Homo sapiens: one gene and its partners. The protein of the gene in region 3 interacts with the protein of the main gene of each other region in a pairwise test. Each region holds a gene or a part of one and is shown on either strand. Other genes may lie near its edges.

Evidence for each region.
Region 1: the proteins of BCAR1 (region 3) and IQGAP1 interact in binary tests that used the Homo sapiens proteins (3 or more experiments, as listed by UniProt).
Region 2: the proteins of BCAR1 (region 3) and COPB1 interact in binary tests that used the Homo sapiens proteins (3 or more experiments, as listed by UniProt).
Region 4: the proteins of BCAR1 (region 3) and PRAM1 interact in binary tests that used the Homo sapiens proteins (3 or more experiments, as listed by UniProt).

Annotation. Positions count from the first base shown.
Region 1 is NC_000015.10:90,383,425-90,391,245, reverse strand, and holds the start of IQGAP1 (ras GTPase-activating-like protein IQGAP1), read right to left. Parts: upstream 3,005-7,821; 5' UTR 2,905-3,004; coding exon 2,850-2,904; intron 473-2,849; coding exon 373-472; intron 1-372. UniProt on the Homo sapiens protein: Plays a crucial role in regulating the dynamics and assembly of the actin cytoskeleton.
Region 2 is NC_000011.10:14,475,811-14,482,833, forward strand, and holds part of COPB1 (coatomer subunit beta), read right to left. Parts: intron 5,288-7,023; coding exon 5,180-5,287; intron 5,096-5,179; coding exon 4,949-5,095; intron 3,905-4,948; coding exon 3,759-3,904; intron 1,206-3,758; coding exon 1,109-1,205; intron 136-1,108; coding exon 1-135. UniProt on the Homo sapiens protein: The coatomer is a cytosolic protein complex that binds to dilysine motifs and reversibly associates with Golgi non-clathrin-coated vesicles, which further mediate biosynthetic protein transport from the ER, via the Golgi up to the trans Golgi network.
Region 3 is NC_000016.10:75,227,663-75,234,629, forward strand, and holds the end of BCAR1 (breast cancer anti-estrogen resistance protein 1), read right to left. Parts: intron 6,274-6,967; coding exon 6,184-6,273; intron 2,362-6,183; coding exon 1,849-2,361; 3' UTR 519-1,848; downstream 1-518. UniProt on the Homo sapiens protein: Docking protein which plays a central coordinating role for tyrosine kinase-based signaling related to cell adhesion. Implicated in induction of cell migration and cell branching. Involved in the BCAR3-mediated inhibition of TGFB signaling.
Region 4 is NC_000019.10:8,499,636-8,506,478, forward strand, and holds the start of PRAM1 (PML-RARA-regulated adapter molecule 1), read right to left. Parts: upstream 3,006-6,843; 5' UTR 2,957-3,005; coding exon 2,930-2,956; intron 567-2,929; exon of another isoform or gene 510-566; coding exon of another isoform or gene 477-509; intron 146-476; coding exon 1-145. UniProt on the Homo sapiens protein: May be involved in myeloid differentiation. May be involved in integrin signaling in neutrophils. Binds to PtdIns(4)P.

The DNA of each region.
Region 1 (7,821 bases), on a different chromosome or scaffold from region 3:
TTCCCCCCACCAAAAACAGGAGTTTTGTCACCCAGGCTAGAGCACAGTGGTGAGAGCACGGCTCACTGCTGCCTCGACCTCCCGGACTCAAGTGATCCTCCCTCCTCAGGCTCCCGAGTAGCTAGGACTACTGGCATGCACCACCATGCCTGGCTAATTTTTAAAATTTTTTTGTAGAGATGGGGTGTCACTATGTTGCCCAATCTGGTCTCAAACAGCTGGGTTCAAGTGATTCCCCCCCACCTCGGCCTCCCAACGTGTTGGGATTACAGGCATGGACCACTGTGTTCAGCCTCAAAGCAATCTTTATTTGTATTCACACTATTATCAGTTCCCTTCTCTTAATCTTCTCTCCAGCCAGCCAATCTTTACCTCTTCGCTTCTTCCAAATGACAAAGGTACTCATAAGCCACGTTCTGACGTCTCCTTTCATCCATCTCCTCTGCAGTAAGTCTTTCATTATCCAGGACAGCTACAACATAAAAGAAAGAATGTAAACACCAGGATCTGTAGCCTTCCTGAGTGATAAAAGATTGCCACAGAATCAATTTCCTGCCACTCACCTAGAAAGTCAGGATAACTAATGAGTGTGTAGCCAGCCAGGTGTACTACAATGACTTTCTTAAAAAAAGAACTATGTGGTTTCAACTATAATCATCTTGACCTTTTTAAAAATGTATGATAATATAAATATGTACTAAGTTTCAGTGTAATCTTGAAAAATACTGTCTTGAGATTTTGGCACAAATCTGTCCCTATCTGCCAGAACTCCTTCTAAATACAGATCTGATAATATTGTTTCCCTCTTTTATTAATGACCAAAGCCAGCAGTTATTGAGACATAAGTGGCAGTAATTGTACGAAGCATTTTACACGCATTCTCTCATTGAAACCCCACAACAATCCTGTGATTATCACTCCTATTTTACAGACGAAGAAACTGAGGCTGGGTGAACTCAGCCCCATGGCAAATAAGTGACAGGGCCTGAATCCAAACCTGGAGAGTCTGTCTCCAAAGCCTGAGCTTAACCTTGAAGCAATCTGCTTCCTTCATGGGCACCAGGTGTGGAATAAATTCCTAACTCCTTGGGAAGGCATTCAAGGCCTTTCCCAGTCTGGTCCCAACTATTTTTGGAAACTCTCCTCTTCCCTTCCTCCCACCACTGTGCAGTCTACATCACTCAGTTCCCAACACAGTATCCCTCTACTTTCAATACCTTTGTTTATGCTCTTCCCTCAGGTCCTGTCTCTTGTTCCACATGCCCTATCAAACTTTTTTTTTTTTTTTTTTGAGACAGGGTCTTGTTCTGTCACTCCGGCTCGAGTGCAGTGGCACAATCATGGCTTACTGCAGCCTCGACTTTCTGGGCTCAAATGATCCTCCTACCTCAGCCCCAAGCAGCTGGGACCACAGGCATGGGCCACCACGCCTGGCTAATTTTTTTTTTTTTTTTTAAGAGATGGAGTCTCACTGTGCTGCCCAGGCTGGTCTCAAACTCAAGGCCTCAAACTATCCTCTCACCTCGGACTCCCAAAGTGCTGGGATTACACGCAGGAGTCACTATGCCTGGCCACCTGTCAAACTTTCTACACAGCATTCTTCAAGGCTCTGTTCAAATGTCACCTTCAGGCCAGGTGCAGTGGCTCACACTTTGGGAGGTCGAGGCGTGGGGATCATTTGAGATCAGGAGTTTGAGACCAGCCTGACCAACACAGTGAAACCCTGTCTCTACTAAAAATACAAAAATTAGCCAGTGTGGTGGCCGACGCCTGTACTCGGGAGACTGCAGGAGAATCGCTTGAACCTGGGAGGTGGAGTTTGCAGTGAGCTGAGATTGCACCACTGAACTCCAGGCTGGGCGACCAGAGCAAGACCCCCTGTCTCCAAAAAAAAAAAAAAAAAAGTCACCTCCCGTGCTCATACTGTCTTCCCCAGGCCCCTTCTCCTTACCTACATTACTCTGTATGGCTAGTAAGTTCAGCATCTTTTATCATTATTGCACCTTATAATCATTAGCTTGCACACCTGACTCTCTGATTAAAACGCTCTTTGGAGACAGGGCCTGATCTTACTCATCTTTAATTTCACAAACGTGGCACAATACCTCACGTATAACTGTTGATGCGTGAAATGTTGATCCTTTAAAAAAGAACATTATTCCCACAATATAAAATAAAACCGAAAACCTCAAAATCCCAAAGGGTCCTCCTTTAGCCAATCCTGCCTGCAGTTCAATGACGTCCAGGGCCGACAACAGAAAATGAGGAAGTCAGAGGATTTTCTGCTTCTTTTTTTTTTCTTTATTACTATTTTACTTTTGAAATCTTGAGGAGGGAACTAAGCCCGAGAAAACTGAAGTGACTTGCCCAGGACGGCACCTCGTAGCTAGCCTGGGACCGGACAGGTCTGGACCCTGGTCTATCCCTTGGGTCTACCCCGCAGGCAACACTAGGGCAGCGCCTTTCCACGAAACGGGCAGAGCCCGCGTACCCAGACCCCCAATCCCCGGGACACGCCCTGCGCGGTCATCCTGCCACCTCACTCTAGGCCGTCTTCCCCAATCTCGGCCGAGCCTGGGCGGCGAGAGGCGCTGGGTGGGGCTCCCCCTACCGCGGCCCCAGCTAAGGCGGGAGGCCTCGGGGGTCCTCTCCGCCGCCTCGGACCCCGAGGGGGCGCGAACCAGGGGCCTCCCCGCCCGCCGCCCGCCGCCCCACCGGGACGGCTCTTCCGGGTCCGAGCTGCCGGCAGCCGCCCTGCCCCACCCGCCCGGCCGAGCCCCCAGGAAAATCGCGCCTCGTCTGCAATTAGCCCAGCCCGAAGCCCCCGCGCCGCGGAGCCCCGCACTCACAGCCATAGTGCGGCCGGGCCACGCCCAGCCCGTCAACCTCGTCTGCGGCGGACATGGCGGACGAGCCCGAGTCTCTGCTGAGGAAGCCGTGAAACCTTGGAGGCGCGGACGGCGGTAGCTACAGCTCCTGCCAAGTGCGCGGGCTTGCCGGGGTCCCCGAGGCCCCGCCCCGTGCCGTCAGCCCCACCCCGCAGGCCCCGCCCCAGCGGCACCGCCCCAGCGACACCGCCCTGAGCGGCCGGAAAGAGGCGGGGCCAGAGTCACCGTGCCCCGCCCCTAACTCCGCCCCCTCAGCCCGGCCCCGCCCTGCATCCCGCTATGGTCTCCGTAGGCGGAAGGAAGAAGGTAGAGCCCATCCTCCAATCGGGCTCACGCTGAGCTTGCCCTGCCGGGAATGCCCGCCCAGGTTTATAGCCCCGCCCCCAAGGCCACTGCCCTATCCGCAACTCTAACCGAAAGGCTGCCGGTGTCTGCTGCCTGAAATCAAAATAGTGGGTCATCTCCCTTCTCTTGCCGGCCCAGCTAACCTCTGCACCAATATTTGGAGAAGACACCCTTTGAGGTGACCCAGGTTGTCTTGTTGGACACAAGCAGGCCCCAAACTGCCATGAAAGCCCTCCAACCCCACTCTCCGCAGTTTGGCAACCTGGCCTCAGTCCTCTTAGATTCGGCAGCAGTCACCAGATTACCCAGGTACCCAGGTATTTGAGATGCGGATGCTAAAGCCGAACTCTGTCCAAATTCCCTACCTTTGGATCCCTTGACATTGTTCTTTGCAAGTTCTTTTTAAAATAACTCTTTTCCCGTATCAGGGATGCCTCTGCCCCCTGCACCTTGTGGCTTGCCCTTCAGATATTGGTATTCAACGGTATTCTGTCCGCAGCCCTCTTCTGTTTATTCTTTTTTCTTTTCTTTCTTTCTTTTTTTTTATTTTCTTTTTTTTTTGAGACGGAGTCTCGCTCTGTCGCCCAGGCTGGAGTGCAGTGGCGCGATCCGGGCTCACTGCAAGCTCCGCCTCCCGGGTTCGCGCCATTCTCCTGCCTCAGCCTCCCGAGTAGCTGAGTCTACAGGCACCCGCCACCGCGCCCGGCTAAGTTTTTGTATTTTTAGTAGAGACGGGGTTTCACCGTGTTAGCCAGGATGGTCTCGATCTCCTGACCTCGTGATCCACCCGCCTCGGCCTCCCACAGTGCTGGGATTACAGGCGTGAGCCACCGCGCCCGGCATTTTTTTTTTTTTTTTTTTTTTGAGACGGAGTTTTGCTCAGTCGTTCAGGCTGGAGTGCAGTGGCGCGATCTCGGCTCACTGCAACCTCCGCCTCCCGGGTTCAAGCGACTCTCCCGCCTCAGCCTCCCAAGTAGCTGGGATTATAGGTGCCCGCCACCACGCCCAACTACTTTTTTTGTATTTTTAGTAGAGGCAGGGTTTCACCATGTTGATCAGGCTGGTCTCGAACTCCTGACCTCAGGTAATCCACCCGCTTCTGCTTCCCAAAGTGCTGAGATTACAGGTGTGAGCCACCGCGCCCGGCCCTCTTCCGTTTATTCTTTGCCTACTCAGTAATCTTTTCTACACTCGCCTATAACTGCTGAGGACCCCTCGATATGTATCACCAGACCAGATCGTCTGGAAGTCCCTCAGTATTTTCAGCTAATGAACACTTTCACCTGTGTATAGGGCAGACACTTCAAATCCCACGTGTCAAATACTGACCCTGCTCCTGCTATATTCTCTATTCACAGAAGTACTCAATTCCCAGTGGGAACACCCCAGGCTCCTTGCCTCGCACCCTACATCCAATCTGTGTTTATTTCTGAGATGTCTACTTTTGTCTCCATCCCTGTTGTGATTACACTGTAGTCGCCCTTCTGCCAACTAGATCCTCACAGTTATCAGGGTGTTCTCTCTAAAGTGCAAATGCAATTGTGTTTCTCTTTTTAAATTTTTTTTTCTATTCCTCCCTTCAAGATAATGGGCCAAGTTCAGCATGATTTAGCATGCCAAATCATAGCCTGACTCCAGATGTTTTGCTCCAGCTATTTTCAATGTATTCACTCTTCCTTCAGACTATTAAAGATACTTGAAAACCTGTAAGAACAAAACACCCCTGTAGAAAAGTGGGCAAGGGTTTCATTTATTAAGCCTACAAAGTAAAAAGTTATTTCATTCTTAAGCTTTTAAGTTCACTTTACAAATTGTATTATTCTATTTATAAGTCTAGCACATTTTACCAAACACTTTTCAGAAACTGAATGATTTATTTATTTCGGAGGCGGGGGGGTCACATTTTTATTGGGGGCCACAGGGGACATGGTCTTCTCCATGTCAATGGAAGTGCTTGCAGTTTCTTCAACCACTCCATGCTTGGGCCTTGGGGGTGGCTGGGCATGTCCAGCATGTTCCCATCATCTCGGAGGGGCACTGGGTTGTTGTGGGGCGTGGCCTAGTTGATCCTGGTGGAGTACATGGTATAGGGGCAGACTGGGGTCAGATTTATAGCTAGGCCCCCGATGGTGAGGAACAGGACCAGCACCCGCTCCTTAGGCCAGGCATTCTTGAGAAAGGCAGCCGCAATGGCAACGAGGACATAGAGCATTCTGAAATTTCCTGAAAATTTTTTTTTAAGTCTCACTCAGTTAATTCAACATCTTCAAATATTTAAAATTATGCCTACTAGGGCAGGCACAGTGGCTCACACCTGTAATCCGAGCACTTTGGGAGGTCAAGGTGGGTGGATCACCTTAGGTCAGGAGTTCGAGAGCAGCCTGGCCAACATGGTGAAACCCCCGTCTCTACTAAAATACAAAAAAATTAGCTTAGTATGGTGACACACGCCTGTAGTCCCAGCTACTCGGGAGGCTAAGGCAGGAGAATCACTTGAACCCAGGAGGCAGAGGTTGCAGTGAGCCGAGATTGTGCTCCTGCAATCCAGCCTGGTTGACGGAGCGAGACTGTCTTTTAAAAAATAATAATAATTGCCGGGCACGGTGGCTCACGCCTGTAATCCTAGCACTTTCGGAGGCCGAGGTGGGCGAATCACGAGGTCAGGATATTGAGACCATCCAGGCTAACACGGTGAAACCCCAGCTCTATTAAAAACACAAAAAAAAAAAAAATTAGCCGGGCATGGTGGCGGGCACCTGTATTCCAGCTACTCGGGAGGCTGAGGCAGGAGAATGGCGTGAACCCTGGAGGCGGAGCTTGCAGTGAGCCAAGATCATGCCTCTGCACTCTAGCCTAGGCAATAGAGCGAGACTCCATCTCAAAAAAATAAATAAATAAAAATAAAAAATAATAATAAAGAATAAATTGTGCCTATTATATTGTCTATATTAGATTTCCTATTACATTTTCTTTTTTTTTTTCTTTTGAGATGGAGTTTCACTCTTGTCACCCAGGCTGGAGTGCAATGGTGCAATCTCAGCTCACTGCAACCTCCGCCTCCCGGGTTCAAGGGATTCTTCTGCCTCAGCCTCCCAAGTGGCTGGAATTACAGGCACCCGCCACCACACCTGGCTAATTTTATATATATATATATTTTTTTATTAGAGATGGGGTTTCACTATATTGGCCAGGCTGGTCTCAAACTCCTGACCTTGTGATCCACTGGCCTCGGCCTCCCAAAGTGCTAAGATTACAGGCATGAGCCACCGCACCTGGCCTAGATTTTCTTTTTAGTTCATTCAATCGTATAAAACTTTTTCAAAACTTTTTTTTTTTTTTGAGACGGAGTCTCACTCTGTCGCACAGGCTGGAGTGTAATGGCACAATCTTGGCTCATTGCAACCTCTGCCTCCTGGGCTCAAGCGATTCTCCTGCCTCAGCCTCCTGAGTAGCTGGGATTACAGGCACGCACCACCGCGCCCAGCTAATTTTTGTATTTTTAGTAGAGACGGGATTTCACCATGTTGCCCAGGCTGGTCTTGAACTCCTGACCTCAGGTGATCCACCCACCTCTGCCTCCCAAACTGCTTGGATTACAGGCGTGAACCACTGTGCCCGGCCTAGATTTTCTTTTTAATTCATTCAATTGTTTAAAACTTTTTCAAAACTTAGTAATTCCTATAAATAAACATACAAGCATAACAAAGCTAACATTCTCTTAGATGGCCTGATTCCATGTGTAAACTTAGTAAGCTTTCAACTCAAAAACCTAAGTCTAAAACTAACTCAATTACACATTTAAAATGATTTACAAAAAAGCTGTCATTCAAGTCGGCCAAATTTTCTTAAACATTGCGAATACATAAAATGTGAAATATTTCTTCTTCTTCTTCTTTTTTTTTTTTTTTTTTTGAGACAGAGTTTCACTCTGTCACCCAGGCTGGAGTGCAGTGGCGTGATTTCGGCTCACTGCAACCTCAGCCTCCCAAGTTCAAGTGATTATCCTGCCTCAGCCTCCTGAGTAGCTGGGCTTACAGGCGCACACGACCACACCCGGCTAATTTTTGTATTTTTACTGGAGGTGAGGTTTTGCCATGTTGGCCAGGCTGGTCTCGAACTCTTGACCTCAAGTGATCTGCCCACCTTGGCCTCCCAATGTGCTGGGGTTATAGGCATGAGCCACCATGCCCAGCCGAAATATTTCTTCTTAACTCCAACATATTAATCCAATTGTTCATTCCATAAAGGCTTTCTTTACTTAATTACAAAGTTTGTCTGAGGTGAAAGCCACAGAGATGTTAAGTTACCAACTGCACTGGTACCTTACTATACTAAGTGTTGCACATTTATTTTCTCAGCTGATCCTTGTAATAATCCCATTATGTCCATTTTACACTTGGGAAAATGGAGAACTGGGTTACTTACCTGAAGCCACACAGCAAGAGGCAGAGCTGGAACTCAAACCCAGGCCTGTCTAATGACAAAGCCCAATTCCTAGTCAATAAACTCAAGATTCAGAGAAATAGACATTAAGATAATAACATGCTGGCCAGGCACAACGGCTCACACCTATACCCCCCAGCACTTT
Region 2 (7,023 bases), on a different chromosome or scaffold from region 3:
AGAACTGCTAAGGGCACTCTGAGTTGCATAGGTACCCATTTCAGTAACCAATTTCTGAACTGGCCCTACAGTTATTTCTTCTTCAGGTTTTAATTCACCAGCTTCTTTCTTTATTTCTGACTCTACAATTGGGATCTAAAAGTCAATTGGAAACATCATTTTAGTAATAGTATCAACAGCAAGCAAAATTATCTTTAAATATTTGATTGTTTCTCTAAAAAAGGCATTACCCTAATGGGATTTTTGGAACTGGGAACTCTGCTTTCAATTTATTTCCTTCCCAGGATAATGTAGTAGGTAGAATAGGGGCTTCAGAGATGGATATTCCAGGGTTTGAATTCTCACTCTGCCACTTACTACTTTGGACCTCAGTTTCTTAATCTGCTAAGTGGAAATCTTAATTCTTTCTACACATTTTACCTAATAGAAAAATGCATTGGACAGTGTCTAACACAAAGCAGATGGTCATTAAGTCGTATTCCTCTTCTTCATTCCTTTCCTTGAAATTTTAACCAAAACAGTACTCATCCTTCTAAAATGAAATAAATCCGACTTATTTGTACATAATAACCTCATCAACTAACTTTTAAATTAACTGAATGGCTATTATGTATTTATTACTCAATACCAGTCCATTACCTAATATAAGAGCACTAAGAGTATTTAATCATTACCTATTTTAATTTATTTTATAGGTGAAAAACACTGATGTCAAGTTAGGTTGAGGAACTTATATTCAAGGTCCTCCAGCTAACTGTCGACACAACAATGACTAGAACTAATTGTCAGGTCTCCTGATAATTAGTCCACTGTTCTTTCTATTCTACCATAAGGTTGTTAGGATGAAGAATACTGTCAGTTTTACTGCATAAATATTCTGAAGTCAGACTTACTCTAAGGCATTCTTCCTTCAGAATACAGGCTAAAGCAGAATTTTACAAGCTACTGCTTCTTTTTTTTTTTTTTTTTTTTAATAAACACAGAACATTTTGTTCAAACAAAATCTAACTCAGAAGTGTAAATAATGTAAGCAAATCACTATAAAAAGTCAGATTTTCCTAAAGGAAAAATTACCATATAAACTAACATTTACTAAAGTAAAACATACCTCTCCAAGGGACCTGCGGATCTCAGTCATCACACTCTGAATGTCTTCCTTGGTACTACAGTATTCTCCCAGGATCCATAATGCTCCTCGGTAAATCCTAGCACAATACAAGATCTGAAACATGAACTTGGCAGACAAATCTTGAAGCAGAGATCTTTCTTTGTTAATTTAAGCTCAAATAAAAACAAGGGCCAGGCACTCACGCCTGTAATCCCAGCACTTTGGGAGGCCGAGGCGGGCGGATCACGAGGTCAGGAGATCGAGACCATCCTGGCTAACATGGTGAAATCACGTCTCTACTAAAAATACAAAAAAATTAGCCGGGCATGGTGGCGGGCGCCTGTAGTCCCAGCTACCCGGGAGGCTGAGGCAGGAGAATGGCGGGAACCCATTCTCGGGAAGCGGAGCTTGCAGTGAGCCAAGATCGCGCCACTGCACTCCAGGCTGGGTGACAGAGCGAGACTCCGTCTCAAAAAAAAAAAAAAAACAAGGGCCAGGCACGGTGGCTCACGCCTGTAATCCTAGCACATTCGGAGGCTGAGGCCAGCGGATCACTTGAGCCCAGGAGCTCAAAACCAGCCTGGGCAACATGGTGAAACCCCATCTCTACTAAAAATACAAAAATCAGCCAGGCATGGTGATGCACATCTGTAATCCCAGCTATTGAGGAAACTGAGGCATAAGAGCTCCTTGAGGCCGGGCACAGTGGCTCACGCCTGTAATCCCAGCACTTTGAGAGGCTGAGGCGGGCGGATCACCTGAGGTTGGGAGTTCAAGACCAGCCTCACAAACATGGTGAAACCTCGTCTCTACTGAAAATACAAAAAAAATTTGCTGGATGCAGTGGCACGCACCTGTAGTCCAGATACTTGGGAGGCTGAGGCTGGAGAATCGCTTGAACATGAGAGGCGGCGGTTGCAGTGAGCCGAGATCGCGCCACTGCACTCTAGCCTGTGAGACAGAGCAAGACTCCATCTCAAAAAAAAAAAAAAAAAAAGAACTGCCTGAATCCAGGAGGCGGAGGTTGCAATGCCCTGAGATAGCGCCACTGCACTCCAGCCTGGGTGACAGAGCAAGCTTCTGTCTCAATAACAAAAAAACAAAAAACAAAAACCAACAAGATTCTGCAGTTCTAAAGTATTTTAGATAAATATTTCAGAAAGAATCTAACAAAACCTAGGTTTCAGTTCTCTCCAGAAATCACAAAGATTAAAAGTAAAATAACTGTTCTTATTATTAGGAACATTCTAAAACTGGTAAACCTAGCAGTAAAAATAAAATACCAAAATGTTTCCCAGTAAAGTGTCCATTTAGGACACAGTGAAGGCAAATTTGGCTTAATCTCTTACTACTCTAAGAAATGTATTATTTTATGGCCAGACACTGTGGCTCACACCTGTAATCTCAGCATCTGGGGAGGATGAGGTGGGAGGATTGCTTTAGTCCAGGAGTTCGAGACCAGCCTGGGCAACAAAGCAAGGCCCTCATCTCTCTTAAAAAAATAAATAAATAAAGTAAAAACAAAACAAAAACAAAAACAAAAAATCAGGAATGTATTATTTTAATGTAAAAAGTAATTCACTTTTTATTTTCAGTCACTGAAGAGGCAAGGTGTTGAACTGAACAATGGATACAGAAGAAGTACAAGGGATCAGTAAAAAAATAATAGTAAAGAAAGCAACCATTCATTCATTCATTTAGATTAAAAAAATAAATAGAGACAAAGTCTCACCATGTTGCCCAGGCTGGTCTCCAACTCCTGACATCCAGCAATTCTCCTGCCTTGGCCTCCCAAAGTGCTGGGAATACAAGTGTGAGCCACCATACCCAGCCAACAATTCTTTAGTTTAAAATGTTAAACTGAATAAAGTCCTTAGTCATCTTTCCCCTAAGATTTTAATTAAATTTATTCAGAAAAACTTAATTATAGAAACCAAAGCTCTAAGAGATTATGGCTGTCAAAAACAAATTCTTAATGTCATAGCTCTTTTAAAATTTGTTTAGCAGGCTTTCTGGTTTTTGCCGGAAAGCCCTCTCACAAAAAAAAAAAAAAAAAAAAAAAAAGCAAATCCTTAATATGATTTTCTTCTCACAAAGGAAGCAAATCCTGCTCTGCTCACTTCCATAAATATTAATATATTTTCATATCATAAAAACAATTTTGTACTTGTCCCTTCCTTCCTGAGACATATTTCAAGTCTGTTAGAGACTATCCATCAGATGCTTTAAATGAAGCAAAATTTAGATGCAACAGTCCTTTCTCATTAGCAAAGGCTCTCTGAAGGGAAAGACAGATTTAGGTTGCATTTTCAATCTTTCTCTTCATTAAATGTGAAAGGAAGATATAAATAATAGTAATAGCCAAAAAGTGATGCCATTTAAAAATATGCTCTTTAGTTACTTTAAGATTCACAATGTTTTAGAGAAAATCAGAATAGAGACCCTGAGCTAAATCACTCCTAAAAAAATTATTTTGGGCCATTTATTATAGACTAAATGAGAGTGGAGTTAGCGAGATGCTTGTTGTACAAACTTGTCTTATTTTGGCTTGATTGTCCTCTCCATTCTATTTTCTATCAACTGACCCTTTAAAGATAAAAACTGATAAAATGCTTACTTGACCTTACATTTAAATGTATTTTAAACCTACTTGACAGATTTAATAGCATGAAAGACTTCAAGCATCTTCTCAACAATAAGCATTCTCAGGTTATCAAAGCGCTGAATGGCTTCACGAACAAACTCCAAGACATCAGCAGCTGCTGCTTCGTTGTTGTCACTGAGAAATTCCATTAACTAAAAGAAAAAAAAAAAAAAGAAAATGGAACTAACAATTTTCGAAAAGAAAATTATCTAGGACAAGAAATAAATTAAAAGAATGTAATTCTTTTTTTGTTTTCTAAGAGACAGGGTCTTGCTTTGCTGCCCAGGCTAGAGAATAGTGGCACAATCATAGCTCACTGCAGCCTTGAACTCTTGGGCTCAAGTGATCCTCTGGCAGCCTCAGCCTCCCCAGGAGCTAGGACTTCAGGCATGACACTATGCCTAGCTAATATTAATTTTTTTGTAGAGACAGGGTCTCCCTATATTGCCCTGGCTGGTCTTGAATCCCTGGCCTCAAGTAATCCTCTTGCCTAGCCCTCCCAAAGTGCTCGAATTACAGACATGAAGTGCCATGCCTGACCCTTGTAATTCTTAATAATTTTCAAATACACAACAAAATGTAAATTGAGAGACAAGTACTATTATGTAAACAAAGTCACAATGGCTTTTCCATTTTATGTGCAGCAAAATTTATTTTAAAATTCACTATAAAAGATAAGCTAGAGATCCAAAACTCCAAATAAATAAATGAATTCGATCCTCCTAAATTGTAACTAAAATCATTTTAGAGAGAACTCAAGAGCTCAAAGGCAAAAATCAAATTATAATAACATACCTCACTTATCTGACAGTGACAGCAAAATATTCTACATATGTGAATTTTTCCTATAACTGATTCCTTTAAGAGCTAAAGCTATTTAAAATAAATACCTATTTGCCTTACTGAATAATATATATACACAGCATAATTTTACTTTAGGTAACTGTATCATCAATTAAAATAATATGCAAAGCTTTTTTTTGGTCACTGTTTTTGTTTTTTTGATGAATATATAAGTGAAAGAAGTCAGTCCTCACCCTTCTGAGTTTAAAGGTAGAGGTAGATATAAAGATCACTTCTCACCATGAGATTTAATGGTTCTAGGCAGCTGAGATTTCTGGAGTTTGTCAAATAACTATATTTTTTAAAAAATTCTTTTAGATAATTTCAAAATTAAAGTCATCAGAATTACATACCACAGGAATAACATTTGCAGCCATATCTGGAAATCGGACAGAACAGGAATGCAATGTTCGCACTAGGAGTTGTCTGTATTTGTCAGTATCTTCATGCTCAGACACATTATTTGTTTTTATCACTTCCTTCTTCAGGACAATAACCAGCTTATAGAATGAAGTAAAAATAAGTGAGAGTTACATCATATTTGGGCCTGATAGCTACAAAGTGCTGTCAGAGTTTCCTTTTACCTCTTCAACATTTCTAGAAGAGACAAGATCCAGTGCTAACTGCAGAGTTTTCTTTCGTACTTCTAAGTCTGGTGTGCTCAATACTCTTAGGATATCCATAACCAGATCCTAAAAAAGAAGAAAAAATCAAGAATTAACACCAATCTTTCTGGTCACAGGAAAAAAATCTTCACTGCAGAATGGTGGGGTTTATCTATCATCACTTTAATTCTTTAATCAATAACAAAACCACTAGTGGTGGAAGAACTAGATAGTTTGGGTCTCCTGATACACTGCAATATGAAATAATAGCACATGACACATTCAAACTGATAATGTTTACTTTGACTCTGTCAAGCTAAAGCTAAAGCTCCAACTTACAGTTTATAGAAAGTAACAGAAGTCAAAGAACAAGCTAAACAACGTAAGAAAGTAGCCATACACATCCAGAAAGAGGGGCATTTTATAGTATTACTGGTCTGGTCTCTTCAACAAATCAGTGTCATAAAAAAAAGATACTGTCCAAAATTAAGAGACTGAAAGGGCATAACCACCAAATACGATACATGGTCACAAAATGGGCAAACTAAACAAAAAGGGCTTTTGGGATAACTGGGAAAATCTACATATAGACTTGGTATTAGATAACATTCATAAATTATTAACAATTTCGTTAAATGTGATATTATTTGACTCCATAGGAAAATGTAACATTTAAAAGATGCACACTTAAAAACAATTCGAAACTGATAAAAAAGTTCTAAGAGTGAACTCCTGTATATCCTTCACCTACATTCACCAGTTAATATCTTCCCACATTTGCTCTTTTCTTTTTTTTGAGATGGAGTCTTGCTCTGTCACCCAGGCTGGAGTGCAGTGGCAAGATCTTGGCTCACTGCAACCTCTGCCTCCTGGGTTCAAGCAATTCTCCTGTCTCAGCCTCCTGAGTAGCTGGGACTACAGTTGCACACCACCATGTCCAGCTAATTTTTGTATTTTAATGGAGACAGGGAGGGTTTCACCATATTTGTCAGGGTGGTCTCGAACTCCTGACCTCAGGTGATCCACCTGCCTCAGCCTCCCAAAGTGCTGCGATTTTAGGCATGAGCCACCACACCTGGCCCACATTTGCTCTTTACTGCTGATAATTTTAGTGTATCTCTCTCAAGGGTAAGGATAATTTCTTATATAACCACATTATAATTATCAGAGAATTTAACACTGATCAATACTATTAACTAATATACACACCATATTCATATTTCTCAATCTGTCCCAATAATGTCCTTCATAGAAATTTGTTGTTGCTGTTGTTCTGATCCAAGATCAGCACTGCATTTACCTGCCATGGGGTTTTATTTTTATAACCATTATTATTCTCATGGATTAAACAAATATGGTGATAATTTTCTAGAATCAGATCACCTTTTATTCTCAATTGGTATAATAATTTTCCACGAAATGTAAATTATATTCAAATTAAAATGAGTATGTCACTGTCGCTAAGAATAGTCAATACAGTACAAACCGAAAAGATAAAAAAATATAATACTGATTCACTTTAGAAAAACATTTTTTTTTTTTGAGACAGAGTCTCACTCTGTTGCCCAGGCTGGAGTGCAGTGGCACGATCTCAGCTCACTGCAACCTCTGCCTCCTGGGTTCAAGTGATTCTCCTGCCTCAGCCTCCCAAGTAGTTGGGATTACAGGCGCACTTCACCACACCCAGCTAATTTTTGTTATTTTTAGTATAGACAGGGTTTTACCATGTTGGCCAGGCTGGTCTCAAACTCCTGACCTCAGATGATGTGCCCGCCTCTGCCTCCCAAAGTGCTGGGATTACAGGCGTGAGCCACCGCGTCCAG
Region 3 (6,967 bases):
CCAGGACTCAGGCTCACAGCTTCCTGAACCAGGCAGGCGAGGCTGCCTGGGGACTTCCTCCTCTTCCCAGCCCTCTGAGCTGGAAGCGTCAGCTCATGGGATGAATGGCGCCCCGGCATGGATGAAAGCCACTTGCCCCAGCTCCCTCCAGGAGTGTGCATGGCAGAGCTGGGGCTGCCACGTGAACCCAGGCCTCAGGACCCTGGCACAGCCCCTGCACCCACACTTGCCATTTCTCCGCACCCCTCCCTGGACTCCGCCAGGTTAGGGTCTCCCAGGCCCTGGCACCCAGTTCAGGCCTGGAGACACCTCCTCTCCTTCCTGCAGGGTGACTCCGACAGCCCTTGCCTGCCAGGATGGAGCCTGGACTCTGGAGGGCATCGTGTCCTGGAGCAGCACCAGCACCTCCTGTTGTCACCAGGCGTGGATGCCCGCATCATGAAATTCATGCCTGGGAAGGCGTGGAGGCCGAGACCACCCCCCCTACCCCGCATCTGTGTAAAACACAAATAAAGCCATTGAGAGCAACTGCATACACCTTTACCTCTGTGTCCTCACCAAGGCAGGTGGGCTGAGCATGATGTGGCTGAGGTGGGGGGACAGATGCTGTCACGGGGACAACCTCTGTAGAGGTAAGATCAGGAGGGCTTGCGAATCACCCAGCCCTACTCCCTTCTTCATACAGATGGGGAAACCAAGGCCCATGTTCATATGCAGAACGGTCAGGGCTGGGAGCAGCACCAGGGGTTCCAAGCACCCTGAAGCTTCCATCTGGGCTGCGGGCTGCTGGGTGGGGGAGCCACGAAGGGGGACACACTTGCCCAGGGCAAGGGTCTTCTCCAAGCCCCTCCCTCCCAACTCAGATGCCAGGTCCAGGTATAATTCCATGTGCACTTCGGGAGTTCCGCAGGCTGGGATGAGATTCTTTTAAGCAGAGCTCTGGATGCAGCCCCCAGCGGTGCCCTCGGCTCACAGGAACCCGTCCCCTTGTGCAGCTGTTCCTGCCCCAATCTGCCCTCACTCCAGATGCCAGCTGTGGGCATGGGCAGGTGCTCACTGTGGCAGCTCCCTAGGGTTGCAGGGGCCATGCCCAGGCTGTGCTTTCTGGGCCCCAGACCCTGCAGCTCTGAAACTGCCCCCTTTCTTGGGCCCAGGCTCTGCCCTGGCTCCCAGGGCCTTGTGGCCAGCTGCAGGCCTCACCCCGCCTCCAGGAGACACCCAGCCTCGGCGTTCCTTGGTTTTCTTCTAGAGAGACCCACTCCTCCTCTGCCCTCCCGGGAGATGCCACGCATGGCCCTTGCCCCCGGGTGCCTTCCCCAGAACCGTCACCCACCCCGGGCTGCTCTCATCTGCCACCCTCAGGCAGCTGCTCTTCCTTTTAAAAACTTTATTTAAATGGAGACTCTTAGTCAAATGATTGGAAAACCAATAACGAAAAATAGTTCTTCAGGTTCTTCTCCTGGTAAGGCGGAGGACACACCAAACTGCACTGGCCCTGTCAGGGGACACGGCACCCTCGTGGGACCAGGCTCAGCCCTCGGGGTGGCACGAGGTCCTGCAGGCTGCAGGACCCTCACACTCCAGCCCCGTCTGGTGACCCAACCCGGGCCCGTGGTGCATGCTGGGGAAGGCCACTGGCCGGCCCCTGGGCTTCGGCTCCTGAGGAGGCATGGCCCCACACCCTGCCCGGCCATAAATATATACAGATTCCTGGGCATCCAGGGCACCAGGACCGACGCAGAGCTGGGGTCCTGTCCCTAAGCCTGTGGCACAGCGACTCTTGACATGGGAGCCAGGGAGCTGGGACCGCCGCACCCCTCCCCTGCCTCCCTCCTGGGGTCACCACCCTCAGGCGGCTGCCAGCTGGCCTAGGACGCGGCGGAACTGCTGGGTGCTGTGGCCCAGCTCCTTGACCCTCTCCACCATGTCCTGGGCCGCGGAAGGCGATGGGTACTGCAAGGCAGCGGCCTTGGTGGTGGCCACGATGCCGCGCAGGAGGTCGCACAGCAGGTTGCTGTAGTGGGTCACCTGGCTGCGCACGTCAGCAGCCTTGGCCTGCCGTGACAGTGTGTCCCCGATGAACACCAGCTTGTGGGCGCTGAGGATGACGAACTTGCTGTGCGCCACAAAGATCTTGGGCGGCTGGTTGGTGGCCACGGCGGTAAAGAAGGCGTCCACGGCGTTGGTCAGTGTGGTCAGGTTGGCCTCACACTGCTCCAGGTAGAAGAGCAGCAGCTGCCGGTCCGAGGGCCCCAGGCCGCCTGTTCGCCCCGGGGCCAGGGGTTGGGCTGGCGTCCAGTTGGCCAGGTCGTGGTCTATGGGCCGTGACACCTCCTGTTCCAGTCGTTCAAACTGCTTCAGCTGGGGCAGGAGGGAAGCAGGAGCAGGGTTAGGCTCTCGGGTGAGTTGGAACTACAGGCCGAGACCTGGGCACCCTGGGCTGGGCTTCTCTAAAAGGGCCGCTACTCAGAGTGCATGGGACTGCAGGGAAACGGGCAGTCTCCTCTCCCGGGGACGGGACCAGGAACCATGGCAAGCCTTCTGGAGGTTGTTCAGTTACCCTTCCACCAGTCTCAAAAGGTCAGACTCCGTGCCCTGAACATTTTTGAAATGACAAGATGGACAACAGAAAAGTGGCTGCCTGGGGTCGGGGGGTCACCGTCCTGGCTTGGGTACTGTCCCACGTGACTTGAGACGTGGCACTGGGGAAAATGGCTGAAGGGCACTGGGGACCCCTCGACCCTATCTTTGCAACTTCCTGTGAATCTATAAATATTTCAAAATGGAAGGTTAAAAAAATTTTCCCCTTAGTTCAAAAGTAACATACACATTATAAAAAGATTCAAATATATCAAACAGAAAAAACGAAGATGTCACCTGTAATCCAATGCCCCTAAATAGAACCTCTGCTAAATCATCTTCCAGAACCACACACGAAAGTTAACATTTCCACTCCCGTGCCTAGGAGTCAGCTGAAGGGGACAATGTGTCCTCACTAGAGCCGCTCTGGCTCCGGAAGTGACCAGCCACACCCAGACTCAGGACTGGTAAGCTCTGTGCCACCCTAGGCGCAAAGATCCAAGCCACAATGAGCAAAACCAATAGGAAACCTCCCCTTCCTAACACTTAGAACCTCGCACTGTCCCCCTTAGGCAGCCACTTGGTGAAATCCTCCATCTCTCCGTTCCCTTAGCCAGTGAGATACATACTCCGCTTTTTTTCTTTGAAAAGCTCTGATGAGGCAGGGTGAGGTGGCTCATGCCTGTGATCCCAGCACTTTGGGAGGCTGAGGCAGGTGAATCACTTGAGTCTGGGAAGTCCAGGCTGCAGTGAGCCCTGACAGAGCACAGGCAACAAGCTTTGTGGGGTTTTTTTTTTTTCAATACTATTTTTATTTTTATAAAGAAGGAGTCTTGATCTGTCACCCAGGCTAATCTTTTTTTTTTTTTTTTTAAATGGAGTCTTGCTCTATCGCCCAGGCTGAAGTGAAGTGGCACGATCTCGGCTCGCTGCAACCTCTGCCTCCTGGGTTCAAGCGATTCTCCTGCTTCAGCTGGGATTACAGGCCTGCGCCACCACCCCTGGCTAATTTTTGTATTTTTGGTAAAGATGGGGTTTCACCATGTTGGCCAAGCTGGTCTCAAACTCCTGACCTCAGATGATCCTCCCGCCTCTGTCTCCCAAAGTGATGGGATTACAAGCGTGAGCCACTGCACCCAGCCCTTTTTATTCTTTGACAACTCTTCATAGTTATATAATATCCCACTGCATAAATGTCCATACTTTATTGAATCAATACTCTCCTATTAGACACTTTGTGGGTGGAGATTTCAGATTCTTCACCGATACAAAAATGGGGCAACAGATGTTCTCATCAGTAAGTCTTCATGGACTTGCATTTAACATGGACTTTATGTCCTTGGCCTTGGAATTCTACATCTTTAAAGTTCTTCACATATATTCTTGCCCTTTAATCCAGCTTCTAGCAAGTTATCTAAGTGATTCATCAGATACGTGCAAAGACTAGTATTCATCACAGCACTGTTCACAAAAGTAAAACTCTGGGAACAGCCTAAGTGTCCAACAGCAGGGGACTGGTGAAGTCAGTGCTGGAGGCACACAGAGGACGGACAAAGTACACGACCACTTCTGAAAACACGGCGATCCCAGAGTTCTCTCTCTAGACAGAGATATAGACCTATATATTGTTGATATTTCAGGAGGTTTTTTGTTTTTGAGACGGAGTTTCGCTCTTGTTGCCCAGGCTAGAGTGCAGTGGTGCGATCTCGGCTCACCGCAACCTCCGCCTCCTGGGTTCAAGCGATTCTCCTGCCTCAGCCTCCCAAGTAGCTGGGATTACAGGCATGTGCCACCATGCCCAGCTAATTGTTTTGTATTTTTAGTAGAGATGGGGTTTCTCCATGTTGGTCAGGCTGGTCTCGAACTCCCGACCTCAGGTGATCCGCCCGCCTCGGCACCCAGGAGGTTTTTAAAACAATTTTATTTTATTTTTTTTGAGACGGAATCTCACCCTGTCGCCCAGGCTGGAGTGCAGTGGCGCAATCTCGGCTCACTGCAAGCTCCGCCTCCTGGGTTCAAATGATTCTCCTGCCTCAGCTTCCCAAGTAGCTGGGACTACAGGCGTGTGCCACTATGCTGGCCAATTTTTGTATTTTTAGTAGAGATGGGGTTTTGCCATGTTGACCAGGCTGGTCTCAAACTCGTGACCTCAAGTGATCTGCCCGCCTTGGCCTCCCAATGTGCTGGGATTACAAGTGTGAGCCACTGTGCCTGGCCACAATTTGTATTAATGTATACAGACTTGGGTCTCACTACGTGGCCTGGCTGGTCTCAAACCCTTGGCCTCAAGTGATCCTCCTGCCTCAGCCTCCTAAAGTGTTAGGATTACAGGTGTGACATTTATTCTTTTCTTGGGTGTTTTCTTTAGTAGATTTAACAGGGGTGCAGGTGCAGTTTTGTTATGTGGGTACAATGTACCCATTAGGTAATTTCTCAGCCCCCACCCCCTGCCACCCTGCCACCGTTCTGAGATGTCAATGTCTAGCCTCTCCTGAGTGTCTCCATGTGCCAGGTACTTCCCAGGCATCTTCCACTTTTCAGTGATTCTCACCGAGCTCTCATGAGGCGGCTGCAGCCTCACTGCTGTGTGTCGTGGGTCTCAGGCCCCTGCCTCTGCCACCTCCTTGGTGCCCAGAAGGTAGGCGAGGGAGATTTGACGGGTGATATTTTTATGTTCACTTCGTGCTATCCTGTATTTTCACTTTTAAAATTATCTTCATAATCAGAATAAAGCTCCCTTAGTGTTTTTTTACATACCTCTTTCCTACCCTGAAGAACTGATTCAAAATATGAGGAAAATTCTATTAACATGTCTGCATATAAACACAGCAGTATATTTATAATAAGGGGCCAGATGTGGTGGCTCACACTATAATCCCAGCACTTTGGGAGGCCAAGGCAGGTGGATCGTTTGAGCCCAGGTGTTTGAGACCAGCCTGGGCAATGTGGTGAAACCTTTGTCTCTATAAAAAATATAAAAATCAGCCAGGTGTGGTGGCAGGCGCCTGTAATCCCAACTACTGGGGAGGCTGAGGCAGGAGAATCGCTTGAGCCCAGAAGGTTGAGGCTGCAGTGAGTTGAGATCGCATCACTGTACTCTAGCCTGTGTGACAGAACAAGATTCTGTGTCAAAAAAAAAAAAATACTAAGGAAGTGTGGGTACAATACAAACATTCAATAGACGCTAAGTGGTCTTTGAAAGAATCCACAAGAATGCTTAACGCCATGGCAGATGCTGGGACAGAAGAGTCGAATGCCCACAGGACACCATCCCGGCCATGCAGGGAGCAGCTTGGAGGAAGGAGCAGGGCAGAGCCAGCCCCGTGCTGAGCCTATGGCAGCTGTGAGGGGTCTATTTTCTGCTCTCACCCCACTCTCTAATTCCCTAAATGTCTCCAACAATTACTCTTGAAAACTTTAAAATAAACCAAGTGAAAAGATGAAGATGGTCAGGAGGCAGGGGGGTGGCAGGCCGGGCCCAGCTCTGAGCACTGTCAGACAACATGAGAAGCTGGGGACCCGGGGTCGGCCCTGCAGGGCAAGAGCTGGGGGCTCAGGGGGTCAGCGGGCAAAGCTGGGCCTTGCTCTGCTCCGGGGCCTCACCTGCTGCAACTCCAGCTGGCTCTTGCCCTGCCGCGTGATGCTGCCCTTTTCCAGCAGCTCCTTCTGGGTCTTCTCAAACTCCTCCTTCCCCTGGAGGGCAGAGACAGGGGCTGCGCTGAGGCCAGTTTTCTGAGCCAGAAGCACAGGCCAGCCCTGTGGCGGGCGCAGTGAGCTGAGTGGCCACCAGGTGGTGCTGCGTGTGCGCGCACACACACGCACACGTGGACGCACACACACACTAGCACACGTGGACACACACACACACACAAGCACACGTGAACACACACACAGACTGGCACGTGCAGGGGCAGGCAGACAGACACACACACACACACACACACACACACACACACACACTCCCCCAGGCTGGCATATGTGGGACACAGCCCCCCCAGGCTGGCACATGCGGGGACACACAGAGAAGGTGGCTTCCTAGGAAGCAACCCTGGCAGCCCCTTTCACCGCCTGCCAGCTCAGGAAGAGACTGGGCAGAGGGTGGGGTACCCGCAGAAAGTCCGCAAGCTCCACCCTGCCTTCCCAGGCTCCAACACCAGGAATCACACCCAATCCCTCCCCCTTGGCCTAAAGGCCTGGCCACCTGGTCCCTGCCCCTGGATGCCTCTCTGGCCCAGCTCAGCCTGGAATGTTCCTTACCAGGACTCCCACCCGGCTAGCACCCAGGCCTCTGCTCCAGGGGCCAGCCTGGGAGGAGCAGTCCCAGCCACCTCCCACCACCTCCTGCTGCTCCCCCACGCTCAGAGCATCCTTGTGTGTGTGCACATTT
Region 4 (6,843 bases), on a different chromosome or scaffold from region 3:
TCTTGGGGTGCTCGCTTAGCTCAGGCTGGGAGAACTTCTTCAGTTTACCAAACTCAGGCTTCGGAGGTTTTTTGGGCAGGTCGCTGGGCTCCGGCTGAGAGGCCTGGAACTTTGCTTTGATGCTCCGGAAGTCCTGATGGCTCTCCTAGGAGACGCAGAGCCAATGAGGCAGGGGCTCAAACACACAGAAGGGGCATGGAAGGATGGGCCTGGGGACCCTCAGGCACAGCCCACAACCACCACCCCTGCGCCCAGGCCCGGTCAGCCCTCAGCTCTTTCCCAGGAGCCCCCATGGATCCTAGGATCCTGGGACCGACACCCCTCCCTACTTCTCCATTTAGTGCTGATTCCACACCCAACCTCCTCTAGCAGCACTGGAGATCCCGACATCCCTCCTGCAGCCTCCAGTCCCACTGCCCTCCCCCCATGGGTGGTACCCCACCCCCCCAGCATCCTTGACCCCCTCATTCTTTCACCCCTCCCACTGCATGTCTCCAGTCTCGTTCCATTGCCCAGGCTGGAGAGCAGTGGTGCAATCATAGCTCACTGCAGCTTGCAACTCCTGGGCTCCAATGATTCCCCCGACCTCGGCCTCCCCAGTAGCTGGGATTACAGGCTTGAGCCGCCGCGCCCAGGCCCCCAGTCCCTTCTGTGCTAATTTCAAAACACATCCGGAATCCAACCACTTCTCACTGCCTTCACCACTGTCACCCCAGGAGGTAGTGGGAGGCAGTGTCTGCCCTCCCCCAACCAATTGCCTGGATTACTCTAACAAGCCCTTCCCTGGGCCTCTGCCTACCCCCTTCCCTGGTCAGTTCCCCCCATGGCAGCTGGAGGGAGAAGCCTGTTGAACCCTGAGTCTGTTTGTGTCCCTCTGCTCAAAACTCGGCAATGCTTCCTCATGTCCCCACAGTTCAAGCTAAATGCCTCATAAAAGCCTGGGCGAACCAGCCTCCCTACCCAGCCACCTTCTCCTCCCTGCACCCTGAACACTTCCCTCCGACCTCGGGGCCTCTGCCCTGTCCCTGACCCAGGACATGTCTCTGCACCACCTGGGTCTCTCCTTTTCCTCCTCCCAGCCTCTGTTCTCATATTTTCTTATTAGAGAGGCCATCCAAGGCCACCCTATTTGTTTATTTTTATTTTTTGAGATGGAGTCTTGCTCTGTCACCCAGACTGGAGTGCAATGGCGCGATCTCGGCTCACTGCAATCTCCACTTCCCAGGTTCAAATGATTCTCGTGCCTCAGCCGCCCAAGTAGCTGGGATTACAGGCACTCGCCACCACACCTGGCTAATTTTTGTATTTTAACTAGAGACAGGGTTTCACCACGTTGGCCAGGCTGGTCTCAAACTCACGACCTCAGGTGATCCACCCTCCACCCGCCTCAGCCTCCCAAAGTGCTGGGATTACAGGTGTGAGCCACCGTGCCCAACCTAGACCACCCTATTTTTCTTTCTTTCTTTTTTTTTTTTTTTTTTGAGACGGAGTCTCACTCTGTCACCCAGGTTGGAATGCAGTGGTGGAATCTCGCCATACTGCAACCTCCGCCTCCTGGGTTCAAGCGATTCTCAGCCTCCTGAGTAGCTGGGATCACAGGTGTCTGCCACGACGCCTGGCTAATTTTTTTTGTATTTTTAATGGAAACAGGGTTTTACCATGTTGGCCAGGCTGGTCTCGAACTCCTGACCTCAAGTGATCCACCCACCTCGGCCTCCCAAAGTGCATGAGCCATCACGCCTGGCCTAGACCACCCTATTTTAAATGGATCACCCCATCCCACTACTGCCCTGCATTCAGCATGCATGATTTTCTCCATCGTACCCACCCCTACGTATTATACTATTTTACATTGTTTTTAATGTGTCTTGATTTTTTTTTTTTTTTTTTTTTGTCTCTCTACACCACAACTTCCCTCAGTTCCTCAGCCTCTGCAAGGCAGAGACTTGGCTCATTCATTGCTGTCTTCCCAGGGCCTGGAACATGGTAGGTGCTCAGTAAATATTTGCTGAAATAAACAATATTCAGGCAGCACAAAGACAGCCATGTACTCAGCCTGACCATCAGGAAAACACAGAGATGCCTGGAGACGGCCATGCGGTCCCTCTCACACCGTCTCTGACATGCGGGCTGATGGTCAGGAATGCTCACAGTTGACAGTGCCTGAGAGGATTGGTGCAGACACCGTGGGCACAGGCGCTGTCTCCTGCATACCCAGCTGTCCCAGCTGCCCTCCTAGCTGGCCCTGCAACCACTCCTCACAGAGGTAGGCAGATTCACAAGAAGGCCAGGCCTCCTTAGTCCTACAAACGCCCCTTTCACCTGTGGTCAAGGAGATTGGGGGAGGGAAAGGGCAGAAACGTGTGGCCTTTGCTTCCTGCGTGTGCCTCACTTTCCCCATCCAGAGGACCAGAGACCAGGATTGCTCCTTGGAAAGGCAGCAATTCCCACCTGGGGCCTGAAGTGCCCCTGTCAAAGCCCCGAGTGGTTTGAAGGAAGTGCTCCCGGGCGACCACAGGGCTAGATAAGTCAGGGTTAGCAGGTCACAACTTGGGTGACTGGACGGGGGAGGGTCATGACCCACTTTGTCACCCCGCAGGAAAGCACTGCTCTCACCCCAGCAGCCCGTTCCCACATGGCTGCTCATGTTGACCTGGGGAGACGGGAGTTGTCCCCCCGGGGAGTCCCATCTGTCCCCCTCGCAGTCCCAACCTGAGCGTGAACCCCCAGGAGCCCGCGCTGTCCTGGGGTGTGCCTGGTGGCCGCCTACCTCGGGTCCTTTTTGCCGACCCTTCCCGTTTCCCAGATGTCTTTCGCAGCCACCCCCCGCCCCCCCGCCCGCCCCTCCACAGGTGGATCCTATCCTTCTGGGAACATCTGTGTCCCTTGCTTCCCAGCCAGTGAGGCACAGGCCTCTTCCAGCACTCACCATGGCTGCAGGCAGGTGATGGGCCATGGGATGAGTGGGACCCGAGCTGGGGCCGCTGCCTTCAGGAAGTGACTGTGGCTTCTGCTCCACGGTCAGCACACAGGGTGGGGGCTGCTAGAGGTGGGGCGGGGGAGGGCAGAGGAGGAAGGGAAGGAGGTGGGGAGGCTCCAGTCCGTCTCCAGATCCTGCCAGCCACTTCTTTTTTTTTGAGACTGAGTCTTGCTCTGTCGCCCAGGCTGGAGTGCCATGGTGCCATCTCGGCTCACTGCAACCTCTGCCTCCCGGGTTCAGGCAATTCTTTTGCATCAACCTCCTGAGTAGCTGGGATTACAGGCGCGCACCACCGCTCCTGGCTACTTTTCGTATCTTTAGTAGAGAAGGGGTTTCACCATGTTGGGCAGGCTGGTCTCAAACTCCTGACCTCAAGGGATCGGTCCGCCTCGGCCTACCAAAGTGCTGGGATTACAGGTGTGAGCCACTGCCCCGGCCCCTGCTGGGCACTTCTATTTCGCTTGAATTCCTGTCCTGCCTGCTACTGTCCCAAGCTTGGGGCACTGGTTGCCCGCATGTTCCTAACATGGTCACTAGTTTCTTTCTTTTTTTTTTTTTTTTTTTTTTTTTTGAGACGGGGTATCACTTTGTTGCCCAGGCTGGAGTGTAGTGGCGCAATCTCGACTCACTGCAACCTCCGCCTCCCAGGTTCAAGCGATTGTCCTGCCTCAGTCTCCTGAGTAGCTGGAATTACATGCATGTGCCACCACTGCCGGCTAATTTTTTGTATTTTTAGTAGAGACGGGGTTTCACCATGTTGGTCAGGCTGGTCTCAAACTCCCAACCTCAGATGATCTGCCCGCCTCGGCCTCCCAAAGTGCTGGGACTACAGGCGTGAGCAACCACGCCTGGCCAACTAGTTTCTTACTCTCTATAGTCCCCATCATTCCTACTACTTTGGTGTCCCCATCTCTGGACTCCAGGGAGGACTCCATGCCAGGCCCTGGTGACCTCCTGGGCTAGAGAGCCACAGGATGGGGAGATCTCAGCAGATCAGGGGTACGGACAGCTCTGGGGTTTAGGAGGCTCCTGGGGAGGCCCAGAGGCCCAGGACGTGGGGGCCCATGTGACCGGGTGAGGCCTCTGCTGTCTGCCCTGGTTGGCTCATCCGCCTTCCTCATTTCAACACTTCCATGAAATCCAATTCCCGGCTCTGAGCAGGACTCACTTGTTCTGGGGCAGATATCACAGGCCATGGATGTCCCAGGCTGCCGCCCTGGGCAGAAAGCTTAGCTGGTACAGCAGATTTGGGGGTCGGTGGGTGAGTGGTGTCAAAGGCCTTGCACCTGGGCCACGCACGGTGGCTCACGCCTGTAATCCTAACACTTTGGGAGGCTGAGGCAGGAGGATCACTTGAGCCCAGGAGTTCAAGACCAGCTTGGGCAATGTAGCAAGACTCCATCTCTACAAAAAATATAAAATTAGCCAGGTGTGATGGTGCACGCCTGTGGTCCCAGCTGCTTGGGAGGCTGGGGTGGGAGAATCACTTGAACCCTGAAGGCGGAGGTTGCAGAGTCAAGATCACGCCACTGTACTCCATGCTGGGTGACAGAGAGAGACTCCATCTCAAAAAAAAAAAAAAAAAAAGGCTTTGCAGTTCTGGAGGAGTGAGGGGGTCTGAGGACCCGAGGACACACCAGATTCCCAGAGGTTAGAGGTAGTAGAGAGAAGAGGAACCAGGAGACAGAGACAGGGGCCAAGAGGGGGTGAAGGCAGTCACTTGTGGTGCCGAGGACTGGCCAGATAAGGACAAGCCCTGACCACAGAGCTCAGCCCACAGGAGATCAGTAATCTCCGTCACGGTAGACAAAGGGAGAAAACACCTGCTAAGAGAGTAGAGAGCCCTGGTTTTCAGTTTGAGCACATGTTGGAATTGCCTGAACAGTTAAAAAAAAAAAAAAAAGAACCGGCGGTTGGGCAGTGTGGCTCACGCCTGTAATCCCAGCACTTTGGGAGGCTGAGTCGGGTGGATCACCTGAGGTTGATCACCTGAGGTTGGGAGTTCAAGACCAGCCTGGGCAACATGGAGAAACCCCATCTCTACTAAAAATACAAAAATTAGCTCGGCGTGGTGGCGCATGCCTGTAATCTTGGCTACTTGGGAGGCTGAGGCAGGAGAATTGCTTGAACCCAGGAGGCGGAGGTTGCAGTGAGACGAGATGGCTCCACTGCACTCCAGTCTGGGTGACAGAGCAAAACTCCATCTAAAAAAAAACAAAACAAAAAACAGAACCTACAAGAAACTCTGACTTAATCAGTCTGGGGTGTGGCCCGAGCAAGTATTTTTAAAACATTTTAAAATTTTTTTTTTGAGACAAAGTCTTGCTCTGTCTCCCAGGCTGCCTCCCGGCTTCAAGTAGCTGGGATTACAGGTGCCTGCCAACATGCCCGGCTAATTTTCTGGATTTTTAGCAGAGCTGGGGTGTCACCATTGGCCAGGCTGGTCTCAAACTCCTGACCTCAAGCAATCTACCCACGTGGGCCTCCCAAAGTGCTGGGATTACAGGCCTTAGTCACTGCGCCTGGCCTGCCTGTTTTCACGCCTCCTTTAAGAGCACAGACATCAGGATTCTGCCATCTCTGTTGTGCCTTTGCATCCTGTCCTGGGGCACAGTTCCCAGATGTGGGTTGCCCTCCCAAAAAGGAGTCTCGGGAGGACAGTATGGGCTCTCTGTGGGTCTCCAGAACCTTGGCAAGTGAAGGAAAGAATGAAAGAAAGAACAAGTGGCCAGGCGCGGTGGCTGACGCCTGTAATCCCAGAAGTTTGGGAGGCCAGGCGGGCGTATCACCTGAGGTCAGGAGTTCGAGAGCAGCCTGGCCAACATGATGAAACCCTGTCTCTACTAAAAATACTGTTTGTGCACACCTGTAATCCCAGGTACCTGGGAGGCTGAGGCGGGAGAATCGCTTGAACCCGGGAGGCGGAGGTTGCAGTGAGCTGAGATTGCGCCATTGCACTCCAACCTGGGTGACAAGGCGAGACACCGTCTCAAAAAAAAAAAAATTAAATTAAATAATAAAAATAAGTAAATAAATAAATCAAGCAATGCTTGGCCACAGTAAGGAGCTCAATCAAGGTAATTAAAGGATTGGATGACAGCTGATGGATTCCCAGGTGCCTGGGCTGGTCACTACCCGTGCACTCTCGCAGCTAGGAGGGTCCAGCCAGGGCGCGCGCACCAAGGCCCCACGGGGGCGCCGTGGGGGTGAAGCGCAGGTCCCGGAGCTGTAGTCATGGTGCGCCTCCCCGCCAACTACCCTTTGTGTATTTGGCGCCTCCGTAGGGGCTCCCGGCAGGGTTCCGCGCGGCGCGGCTGCAGACAGGGACAGATAGGGTTACCGGAATCCCGGAGAAGGGAGCCCGGACCAGGGGAGTGAGAGTTCGTTAGGGCGCGCCTTGGGGAATCTGCGGGGTCGGAAACGCGAACAACGGTGTGCAGGGGGAGGAGCCCGGGGAGCACGTGGGCGGCGGATCCCAGGGCCGCAGGGCGCCCTCCACCTCCCCGCTCCTGGCCCGCAATGAGGGTAACCGGACCGGCACCTGCAAGTGACAGCTGGGGCTGGACAAATGCCGGGCACGGGCCTCTGGCCGGCCTCAGAGCTGTTCAGCGCGAGCCCGCGGCTTCCAGCCAACCTGCCCGCTATCCCCACTGCTCTCCCGGCTTTCATTCCCCCGAGTCTGAGATTCCTGGGCGCCCCCTGCTGGGCGGAGCCGGGGCCCAAGAGGGCTGGGCTCCTGTGCATGGGGGTTGGGGGCCGGCTTGAGGGTAGGAGGTCGTTTCTGCAGTGGACAGGGTGAACGGTGGAGGACAGGTGGTGAGCCAGCTCCCCAGGCCTCGCGGCAGTCAGTTCACTCCAGAGGG